Regions from separate parts of the Homo sapiens genome. Here region 1 is linked to region 2. A link means that fine-mapping ties the variant in region 2 to the expression of a gene that starts in the linked region. Tissue or cell type: whole blood. Region 2 holds a variant in brackets; the other region holds the start of a gene. All regions are shown on one strand. Distances are between the middles of the regions.

What was found. PIP is the estimated chance that this variant, and not a neighbour inherited with it, causes the effect.
Region 1: it holds the start of SGPP1, and the variant in region 2 is fine-mapped to the expression of SGPP1 in whole blood (INTERVAL, PIP 0.90).

What each region holds. Positions count from the first base shown.
Region 1 is chr14:63,725,106-63,730,915 of GRCh38, reverse strand. It overlaps SGPP1 (sphingosine-1-phosphate phosphatase 1), which reads left to right and starts at 2,851. Exons shown (of 3, transcript NM_030791.4): 1 at 2,851-3,655. The coding sequence starts at 2,972. RefSeq lists enhancers at 2,360-2,549, 3,510-3,559, 3,204-3,705 and silencers at 2,760-2,859, 3,150-3,249.
Region 2 is chr14:64,170,006-64,175,815 of GRCh38, reverse strand. It overlaps SYNE2 (spectrin repeat containing nuclear envelope protein 2), which reads right to left. Exons shown (of 116, transcript NM_182914.3): 94 at 5,354-5,588; 95 at 678-872. Among named protein-coding and RNA genes, the nearest start is that of MIR548H1, 78 kb to the right of the region's middle. The variant G/T (reference allele first, on the strand shown) is at 2,922.

The sequences.
Region 1 (5,810 bases), 440 kb after region 2:
CTAGCCTAAAAGCCTTCCATGGCTCCCACTGCCTACAAAATTAAATCCCTTTGGTATTCAAGGATTTACAACCTAATCCTATCCTCCCTTTGTAATCCCATTTCCAATCACCCTTGCTACTCTATGCTATATGCTATTGTTTTTTGGTTTTTTTTTTCATTTTTTAATTTTTACTGTTTGAGACAAGGTCTTACTCTGCTGCTCAGGCTGGAGTGCAGTGGTACAATCGTAGCACCCCGTAACCTCTAACTCCTGGGCTCAAGCAATCCTCCCACCTCAGCCTTAAAAGTAGCTAGGGCTACAGGCATGTGCCATCACACTCAGCTAATTTTTTTATTTTTCTTTATTTTTAGTCTGAGTCTAGCTCTATTGCCCAGGCTGGAGTGCAGAGGCACAATGTTGGCTCACTGCAACTGCCACCTCCCAGGTTCAAGCCATTCTCCTGCCTCAGCCTCCCGTGTAGCTGGGATTACAGGCACCTGCCACCATGCCTGGCTAATTTTTGTATTTTCAGTAGAGATGGGGTTTCACCATGTTGGCCAGGCTGGTCTCAAACTCCTGACCTCAAGTGATCCACCAGCCTTGGCCTCCCAAAGTGCTGGGATTACAGGCATGAGCCACTGCACCAGCCCCCCACCTAATTTTTTAGAAAATATTTTTGTAGAGTCAGGGTCTTGCCATGTTGCCTAGGCTGGTGTCAAACTACTGACCTCAAGTGATCCTCCCACCTCAGCTTCCCAAAGTGCTGGGATCAAAGGAGTGAGCCACTGCACCTGGTCTCTATGGACTATTGTTTACCAAATACATTTTTGCATATCCCTATCTTCCTTCACTTTCTCTTCCTAAAATGGGCTTCTTCACCTATTCATATTTTGCTCTGTAAAACAATCCAGCTCTACAGGATCACCTCCTAACACCTTTCTTCCTGTTCCTAGTCAAACTTGTCCTCCTTTCTGAGGCATGCTGTTTATGTCTGTTTTACACTTGCCATCTTCTCTATACTCTAGAAGTAGTCCTGTCTTTCTTTATCTCCCCTAAACTGTGAACAACTTGAGAGCATGGGTGATGATTTATTCCTCTTTCTATGGCCACAGCCTAGCAAGTGGAGTGGGAGGAGGAGAGTACCTGTCCCTGCGAAATGAAATTTTTTTTTTTTTTTTTTTTTTAAGATAGGGTCTTACTCTGTTACCCAGGCTGGAATTGCAATGGCACAATCAGGGCTCACCGCAGCCTTGACCTCCCGGGCTTAAATAATCCTCCCGCCTCAGTCCCCCAGTTATCTGGGACTACAGGTGTGGGCCACCATGCCCGGTTAATTTTCTTTTTTTTTTTTTGAGACAGAGTTTCACTCTTGTTGCCCAGGCTGGAGTGCAATGGCGCGATCTCGGCTCACCGCAACCTCTGCCTCCCTGGTTCAAGCAATTCTCCTGCCTCAGCCTCCGAGTAGCTGGGATTACAGGCATGCACCACCCCGCCCGGCTAATTTTGTATTTTTAGTGGAGACGGGGTTTCTCCATGTGGGTCAGGCCGGTCTTGAACTCCCGACCTCAGGTGATCCGCCCGCCTTGGCCTCCCAAAGTGTTGGGGTTACAGGCGTGAGCCACTGTGCCCAGCCCTGCCCGGCTAATTTTGTTCATTTTTTGTAGAGGTGGGATCTCCCTATGTTGCCCAGGCTGTTGTCAAACTCCTGGACTCAAGCCATCCTCCCTCCTCGACCTCCCAAAGTGCTGAGATTATAGGCATGAACTACCACGCCTGAAGGAAAGTATTTCTACTGTTTTAAGGGCATGGGACAATTTCAAGCCTGTTTCTTGGAAGTAGTTCACATTCTTTAATTACAGACATTCACCTGATCATGGCGGGTGTGGTGGCTCACGCCTGTAAACACAGCACTTTGAGAGGCCAAGGCAGGAGAATCACTTCAGCCCAGGAGTTGGAGACCAGCCTGGGCAATATAGCGAGACCCTGTCTCATCTCTCTCTCTCTAGGTATATATAAAAGACATTCACCTGACCTGAGGAGTTCAGAGACCTTATAAACTGCTCTAGCTAGAAGTCAAGTTGGTAACTTGTGAGACACGGAAGTTAAGCGTCTAAATTAACGTTACCAAACTCAAAAATCTATACACTGCATTCATTCTCTACATTTATTCTGTGCAAGCCCTCTAGGTATTAGAATCTAGGAAAAGGAAATTTTACACTTAAGAACACCTGTGCTCCCTTAACATATACCAAAATATTTGATAAATGACACAGTATTTTGAATTTGTAGGTGGCTGGCTTTTCTTTTGCAGACCACACCTGTTAATATCACCTGGCCCTGTCTTGGGATCTACATGTAGTCTTGTCACCACTGGTCAATTGGCACATGGTTTTCCGAACATCAGTCGCCTGGGACAGCTCTGTAATTACTTGTTAATTACTTGAGTCGAATGATTCCGAACTCATGGTAGTTGCTTCGCCTTCATTGATCATTCACCATTTGGTTCTGTGCCAGCAGGATGCCCGGCTGCTTGGTCACAGGCATTGCGCAAGCTGGCACCGGGATCGTGGCCTCTTTAAGTCAACTTCTGGCTGAGGGAATCCGGCGACACTAGCCCGCGGAGAAGAAGGGCTGAAGGTGGAGCAGGGGGACACGCCGCGTCCCACCAGACGTACGCCGCGACGCCTGCTGGTGGATATTACCCGGGACCTCAAAGCGGCCGCCCGCCGATCCTCAGCGCCAAGCCACGGCCGGATGCGCTCAGGGCGGACCCGCGCGGCCCGGCCCCTCAGGGAGCCCGGGTGGGGGCGGGGCTGGGCGGGGCGGGGCGCGGCGCGCGCGGGGCGGGGGCGCGCGGCCTGTGGCGCCGTCACCCGGCAGACTCCGGAGGGTAGAGCGCTGTGCCGGTTCCGCTGCCGCTGGCCAGGAGCGCGGGGACAGTTCGGGGCTGCGCCGGAGGCCGGCCCGCCTTCCCGGGGGTTCCGTTATCATGTCGCTGAGGCAGCGCCTGGCCCAGCTGGTTGGCCGTCTGCAGGACCCGCAGAAAGTGGCCCGTTTCCAGCGGCTGTGCGGGGTGGAAGCGCCGCCGCGCCGCTCAGCAGACCGGAGGGAGGATGAGAAAGCGGAGGCGCCTCTCGCCGGAGACCCTCGACTGCGAGGGCGGCAGCCAGGGGCGCCTGGAGGCCCCCAGCCTCCCGGGAGCGACCGCAATCAGTGCCCGGCCAAGCCGGACGGCGGCGGCGCCCCCAACGGCGTGCGGAACGGGCTGGCGGCCGAGCTGGGCCCGGCCTCGCCGCGGCGCGCGGGCGCTCTGCGCCGCAACTCGCTGACGGGCGAGGAGGGCCAGCTGGCCCGCGTGAGCAACTGGCCGCTCTACTGCCTGTTCTGCTTCGGCACGGAGCTGGGCAACGAACTCTTCTACATCCTGTTCTTCCCCTTCTGGATCTGGAACCTGGACCCTCTGGTGGGCCGGAGGCTCGTGGTCATCTGGGTGCTGGTCATGTACCTGGGCCAGTGCACCAAGGACATCATCCGCTGGCCGAGGCCCGCCTCGCCGCCCGTGGTCAAGTTGGAGGTCTTCTACAACTCTGAGTACAGCATGCCCTCCACCCATGCCATGTCCGGCACCGCCATCCCCATTTCTATGGTCCTCCTCACCTATGGCCGCTGGCAGGTAGGGTTCCTTCTCGTCCTGTTCAGCCTGGGGGAGTTCAAAGAACTCGGAGTTCTCTTTGCTCTCTGCATTTATTTTAATTCGACCGTTCCCCTCCAAAGCCTCTCTTTCCACAGGTTTTCACAATACTCGCAAACAGGCCCTTTCTGGGTTTTGAAAAATTAAGTGATTGGGGGAAACTGGATACTTAGCCGTTGAATTCTATTTTAATATTAAATTCCAATTTAATGCCTTAGAACCCAAAGGACACACTTTTCCTAGAGTAATACATTGTCATTGGGCTTTGGTTGAGTTTTTTAAACGGCTTTAATTCTTGTAATGCACAGTGGAAGTGAATTTTTTAAATAATCGCTATGTAAACTAAGACCCAGTTTCACCGTAATATATGGTGCCTTCTTCCCTAAAACTGTTTCAGAAAGAGGTAAAGTCATTAGCTTTACCGTGAGACAGTGTTTACAAAACGTTAGTGTAATTCCAAAACAAACATGCTAGTTCCAAGCAATGAAGTAATCGATTTTCATCGAAGTTCCCTTTATGGAAGTTAATGGAGCACAGGGTGAGTTCTGTTTTTAAGGGGTGTGGTTGCTACTTTGCTGATAAAGTTTGATTATCTTCTGGATCACTAATCTGTAGTATCTAACAGTTGTTGAGCTACAACTGTAATACTATAGTGTTATTGCCTCATTAACTCTAAAAATGCATGGTTTAAAAGTTATTCTTAAAGATAGGGCTCTTGATCAAACTAGTGGGTTTATAAAAATGGCAAATATGACAGCAGGGTCAGCCTGACAATCAGGAAAATTTTTTTTTTTTTTAACCCTCTCTGAAAACTGCCAAGGGAAGAGTTTTTAATGGTAATCGTTTTTATTTTGCTTACTTCTTTTGGCCTTCCAATGTTTATCTGTCTTTGAACTGTAAGATTTGTTAATCCTGCAGACCAGTCCCTTATTTTAAGAATAAAGTGCGTAATTGTGGAGATTCTAAGGAAACAAACTTCCTCTATTTTTTCCCCCTTTACTTCACAAAATCATTTTACATTGAGAAATACACATTCTGTGTAAAACTCCATTATGATAAGCTTACTTATCCCACATTAAATTTCAGTGTAGATAAAATTTCGTCCCCATGGATACTTCTGTGTAGTGCATCTCTCTTACAGTACATGGAAAATACGCATTGTGCATAGTAAGAATGGCAGAATTAGGAGGAAAGAGTACCATGGGAAGTTTTTTTCTGTTTAACCAAAGGAGCTATACGGTGATGTTCAGATTGTGAAGCAGTGCTACCTGTTTTGCGTAACAGATAAATATCTCGAAGTTTTCATTTAATCTAAATATTTCAGAATTTAAGATTTTCAATGAGCTGTGTTTGGCCTGGTGATGTTAGCTGATGATGTTTCTCTTATTTTCGTGAGACTTTTAGGATTCTGTAACAATAGAGCCTTTTATGATGCCTTCTCAGTGAGTAGCTATTTTGTATGCTATTAGTATTAGCAGTCAAAGTAAGAGAAAATAGCTATTTTTGCTCTTTATTTGTTCTGGACACATACTAACTGGAAGTCTGAAAACAGTACTGCTGAATCGTTTATGGGATATTGATATTCTAACATTTCAGGGTTATTTGAATTATCAGAATAAGCTTAGATTTAGTTTTTAAACAACCTAGTATATTTAACTCAAAGTTTAAGAAATTTGCGTATCATAGAATTTTAGACTTTGAAGTAGACCGGATGTTAGAAATCACTTAGTTTCAAACTGTCATTTTACAGATGTGCAAACTGACCAGTTACATTAAAATTAATCTTGTAATGCTTTAAATTTCTTATTTTACATTTTTTCACTCTAAATTTGCATGATTTTTCGGTTAGTTGTTCTGAAAGAAAGCCTCCTGACGGAGTCTCGCTCTGTTGCCCAGGCTGGAGTGCAGTGGTGCAGTCTCGGCTCACTGCAACCTCTGCCTCCCAGGTTCAAGCAATTCTCTGCCTCAGCCTCCCGAGTAGCTGGGATTACAGGCGCCTACCACCACACCAGCTAATTTTTTAAGGATTTTTAGTAGAGATGTGGTTTCACTGTTTTGGCCAAGCTGGTCTTGAACTCCTGACCTCAGGGGATCCACCCATCTCGGCCTCCCAAAGTGCTGGGATTACAGGCGTGAG
Region 2 (5,810 bases):
AATATGTCTGGTAAGTTTGGTTATCTAGTTTTGGCACACACGACAGACTAGAGAGAGTGGGCTATAAGAAGTAAGTGAGCTTGGAGAAAGACAAAGTAAAAATAGACAGTTTGACATTAAGAGGAGAGAAAGAAAAATGATAAAAACCATATCAGAACTCAAAGAGCACAGTAGTTCAGGGAGGGCCACAGGTTCAAAGTAATTCAGAGGCCTTGAGAACAACTTGGTATCTTAGCATAACAAAACAATAATGATTTTCCTAACAGTGACTCAAAATATAACACTGTAGTTCTTAAAGGTATAATCATACATTATTTGGAAAATTCACTTATATGGAAAAGTGCATTCTCTGATGATAGCAGAAAAATGAAGTGTTTCTGTCTGTTCCATACATGGAACATTAGTTTTATGTATTGAACTTTCATTGAATATGTTTCCTGTTTCATAAAAGTAAGTATCTTAATAGAATCTCAAGTATTTAAATACTAAACATTGAGCTCTTGCAATGCTATATCATCATTTCACATTAAGTAACTGGCATGACTTACAGATTACAGCTTGAGTTGGAAACTCATGATACTATAGTTTCCTAAAACCATTTCCATTTTCACACCACAAATGAAAATCTATGTACTGAATTTGAATATCATGAATGGAAAAGTAAGTGGTGAGTTTACCTCTACAGTGCTCTGGAACTGCTTAATCATCTCTGCCAGCTGGGGCTCCATGTCTTTCCAGCTGTCCTGAAGTTGACTGATTCTCCTACCCACAGACTCTTTAGTTTTCAGGTCAGTTGTGAGCAGTAACTTTTCTCCAGCTTCCAAGGTTAGGGCACAGGTAGTTCGCCTCCTTTGAAAATGAATTTCTTTATTCTAAGAAAAAAAAGAGAAGTAATTTGCTTAGGTTTCTGATGTGTTCAAAATGTGATTGTGTGTGCCTGTGTATATTTCCTTCAGAGCTTTTCTTAAGAGTTAAACTAGATATAAATTAGACAAATTGGGTCAGAATGTACATACACACACACATCAAAAGCTAATGTTTTACACTGAGTAGATAAGCATACCACTAAGTGAGGTGTTCTTAAAATAATTTCCAAAGATTGGTGAGATAAGATTCTCAGTGTAATGATTAGCAGCACAGAGAAATAAAAAAATATACATCATAGAATAATAGCCTGCAAGGTAAATGGATCTAAGAGTATTAAGAAAGTGAATGGAGTAACAGACCTGAAATCAAGTAACAGACCTTATATTACGCTAAACAAATGTAAAAGGAAAGAACGCGAGAAAGGGTAAAATACAAAAAATATACATTTCTTAAGCTTTTTATGAGCACATAAACATGTACATTGATGTGTGCCCCAAAGGCGCAGCTTTAAAAAATTTCATCCGAATATCATGTAGGCTTTCTGAAAATTAAAAACAATTTAAAAACAATAGTTTTAGACCCGAAGTGATGGCTCATGCCTGTAATCCCAGCACTTTGGGAGGCCAAGACAGGCAGATCAGTTGAGCTCAGGGGTTCGAGACCAGCCTGGCCAACATGGAGAAACCCTGACTCTACTAAAAATACAAAAATTAGCCAGGCATGGTGGTGGATGCCTGTAATTCCAGCTACTTGGGAGGCTGAGTCCCAAGAATCACTTTAACCTGGGAGGCAGAGATTGCAGTGAGCCAAGATCACACCACTGCACTCCAGCCTGGGTGACAGAGTGACGCTTTGTCTCAAGGAAAAAAAAAAAAAAAAATTTAAGAGACAAGGTCTTGTTTATTTTTATTTTTTTCTATATTTTAGTGGCGGTGTTACAGCTCCGTGACTGCTCCTGCAGAGCAGGGCCGCTCCGCAGGCAGTGTGCAGAGAGTAGCGAAGGTCCTGTTTTTTAAGAGATGCGCCACCACACCTGGCTACATGGGCGTTCTTTAAAGAGATTGAAACTAGGTATTTATAATACAAAAATAAAGTAAAAACTTTAAAATTGATCCATACTCCCAAAGGCATTTGGTTTTAGAGGAAAAATTAAATAGTTTTTGTCTGTTCTAAATATGTTTTCCTGGCTGGGCATTCTGGTGAGTGCCTGTGGTCCCAGCTACTCGGGTGGCCGAGGTAGCCTCACCAGAAGTTTGAGGTTACAGTGAGCTATGATCACGCCACTGCACTCCAGCCTGGGAGACAGAGTGAGTACCTATCTCTAAAAAAATAAGTAAATAAATAAATAATACATAAATATTATTTCCTTCACCTTGAAATTTCTTGAAGGAGACAAAGTGTGGGCATTTTTCCAAAATGGGAGCTGATAAACATCAACAGAGCATCACTAATTTACAAAGGCATTTCTGAGAAGCCTGAAGATCACCCATACCCAAAGGAGGAAAGCCAAATGCACCCTCAGGAGCAGCACACAAATAAGAGAAACAGCAACTGGACCACAGGCACTCCACGTGCATCTCTCCAACATATTGTGCTGCGCAAATGAGCCACTCGTATTAGACCTGCTCCTCCCTTAGTCTTCCCTAACTCTGTCAACAGCACACTATTCACCAAGATGCTTGAGCTTCAACCCAGAGTCGTCCTTCATCTAGCTTTTCCTTTACCAGACTCACAAACCGACACTCCAAAATACGGTGTTTTGACACGCTGAACTGAAGAAGTCTCAGGGTCTCTCTACCCTAACGCACTGCGTCTCCTACAGAAGCTGAAGTCCTTTATCTGCCTAAGACCCGGACTCACCAAGGAGAATGATTGTTTTTTCTTTCCCTCCCTGTTACCTCATTATCTTATTGCAGAAAAGAAGACCCAGATGTAACCACACCCAAATAGGCTCTTTCAAGATGACTGCCTCCAGCGATCACTGAAATTCCAAAGATAACCTTTTTTTTTTTTTCCAGACAGGTCTTGCTCTGTTACCCAGGCTGGAGTGCAGT[G/T]GTGTGACCATGGCTCGTTGCAGCCTCAACCTCCCGGGCTCAAGTGTGACCCTCCTGCCTCAGCCTCCTGAGCAGCTGGGAGTACAGGCGTGCACCACCACACCTGGCTAAATTTTGAATTTTTTTGTAGAGACAGGGGTCTCACTATGTTGTACACAGGCTGGTCTCAAACTGGGCTCAAGGGATCCTCCCACCTCGGCCTCCCAAAGTGTTGGGATTTCAGCCAATTCTCATCAAACTGTGGCACCTCTGTCCCCTCCTCTCAAACTCATGTGGACACATATGATAGCCTTCATTGTTAGAGTGTGGCAGAAGCGATATATGTGACTTCTGAGGTTGGGTTTATAGGGCAATACAGCTTGTTCTCGGGATAAGAATCTTTGAAACCATTGGGGTACCATATAAGAAGTCTGGCCACTGGAAGCCCTCACGTGGTAACACAACAGAGAATGATGCCCAAGGAGAGGAGCTCCACTGTCCCAGCTCCTTGCTGCTCCAGTTGTTCCAGCCTAAGCATCAGTCATGTGAGTGAGCTTCAGATGACACCAGCCCCAGCCACCATCTGACTGCAACTGCCTGAGAGACCCCAAGCAGGAACCACCAACTCCTGTCAACCCCAAGAATGACGAGACAGAATGATGAGTGTCATTATGCAGCGATAGGTAAGTGAGATGTTAGGATTCCTACTTTTCCTTTAGCTCCCCTACAATCAGGAACAGCCAGAGTGATCTTTAAAAAATATGGGGCTGGGCACAGTGGCTCACGCCTGTAATCCCAGCACTTTGGGAAGCTGAGGTGGGTGGATCACCTGAGGTCAGGAGTTCGAGACCAGCCTGGCCAACAGGGTGAAACCTTGTCTCTACTAAAAACACAAAAATTAGCTGGGCATGGTGGCGGGCGCCTGTAATCCCAGCTACTTGGGAGGCTGAGACACGAGAATTGCTTCAACCTGGGAGGCAGAGGTTGCAGTGAGCCAAGATCGCAACACTGCACTCCAGCCTGGGCGACAGAGTGAGACTCCGTCCCAAAAAAAAGAAAAACAAGCAAACAGTGTCATGCTGCCCTCTCCCTCAGCTGAAATGCTTCAAAGGCTCCCTGGTTCCAGCCAGACCAGGTAATCCAGCTGCCACACCCAACCTGCAAAACACTCCTCCCTACCCGCCTTTCTAGTTCACCTCCTGCCACTACTGCCTTGCCAGCTCTGCGCCAGTCACACTGGCCTTTTTGCCGTTCCTCTGTGCTGAGCTTGTTCTCATCTTGGGGACTTGGAGTAAGCCTCTCCTTCAGTCTGAAAGGCTCTTTCCTTAGATCTTGCATGGCTGGCTCCTTCTCATCATTCAGTCCCAGGTTAAATGTCACATGGCCAGAGACAACCCAATCTAAAGGAGCCACACATCCCCATCTCTACTGGCCCTGTTTTAATGATCTACGTAAGTCTTATTACAATCTGATATTTTATTATTTATTAATTTATCTGATTAATTATTCTGGTTTACTACTTTGTCTGCCCTTATGAGAGCGAAGGTCTTCTCTCCATCCACAGAATACACCCAGCACTTAGGACAGTGATTGGCACAGAGAAGGTACTCAATTAATATGCGATGATTGCATAATGAGTGAGGGCTGTACAGGATTTCAGGAGGGTGGTGTTTGTTGAGAGGCTTCTCTAAGGTGGAGAGTAGCTCTACAGCTCCATGGGACATGCCAACCACCTATGCTAATCCTGTGCTCATCAGGCAAGTTTCTTTTGGAAAGCTTTGTTGGCTGAATGAATTTGCCCCTTTATTTTTATTTTTTTTAAATCAGTTTTTAAAATTTTGTGAGTGCATGAGGTTTTTAAATATAGGCATGCAATGTCCAATAAGCACATCATGGAGAACGGGGTTTCCATCCCCTCAAGCATTTATCCTTTGAGTTACAAATAATCCAATTACACTCCTTAAGTTATTTAAAAATATATAATTAAATTATTATCGACTATAGTCACCCTACTGTGCTATCAAATAGTAGGTCTTATTCATTCTATTTTTTTTGTACCCATTGAATTTGCCCTTCAAGAGTAAACAATGCCATCACTGTACATTACTACACTAATGGTCAATTTATACATTAGTCAGTGGCTTAAGAATCTGGGTGGTTTGAGTCTGTTGCCCTAAACCTCCCCCAATTTATTCACCCATCTCCACTCCATGCCTCCTCTCATGGCCCAAGAGAACCCTAGTATTTCTGGATGAATGGGTAATATCGGGTTTCCAACCCCACAATGCTAGGGACTGGGCTGTGGGGGGTGGTGACTGCACCTTGCTGGCCTCACACTGCAGAGAGCCCACTTGGATCACATCATCATCAAAAACATTAAACCAAAGGTGAATGAACATCTTGCAAACAATGACCACCCTGTGGTTCTCACACTGCTACGATGCATACACTACCTTCAGCTCATGGATCAGACTTCTGGTTTGGTAGAGGCTGAAGCGCTCCTGGCCCTTCACTGCAGATAGCAGGTGGCTGGTGTCAGTGAGGAAGCGAAACAAGTTCTCCACAGAAGTAGTGAAATCTTGCCACTGCCTCACCAGCCCATCAACGTCACCCTTCCTCTGCCGAACACCCTGGACAGCATTCTGCCACCGATCCGTCAGCTTTGAGAATTCTGTAATAAATTCTGGTCTGGGGAAAAACAAATGGTTATAGAATCCAGACATCGACATGTAGAAAAAATAACTATCAGTGGGTAATAGCAGCTCAGATTCAGTTTTTATAAGTACAATTTACATGAAAAAAATCCCAACTTCTAAACACCTGAGTGCTATTCAATTTAAACATGATTAAGGCTTTGGGAAGGGCAGCATGCAGACTGAGTTTAGCAGAAGGTATCTGCACGTAACCTGG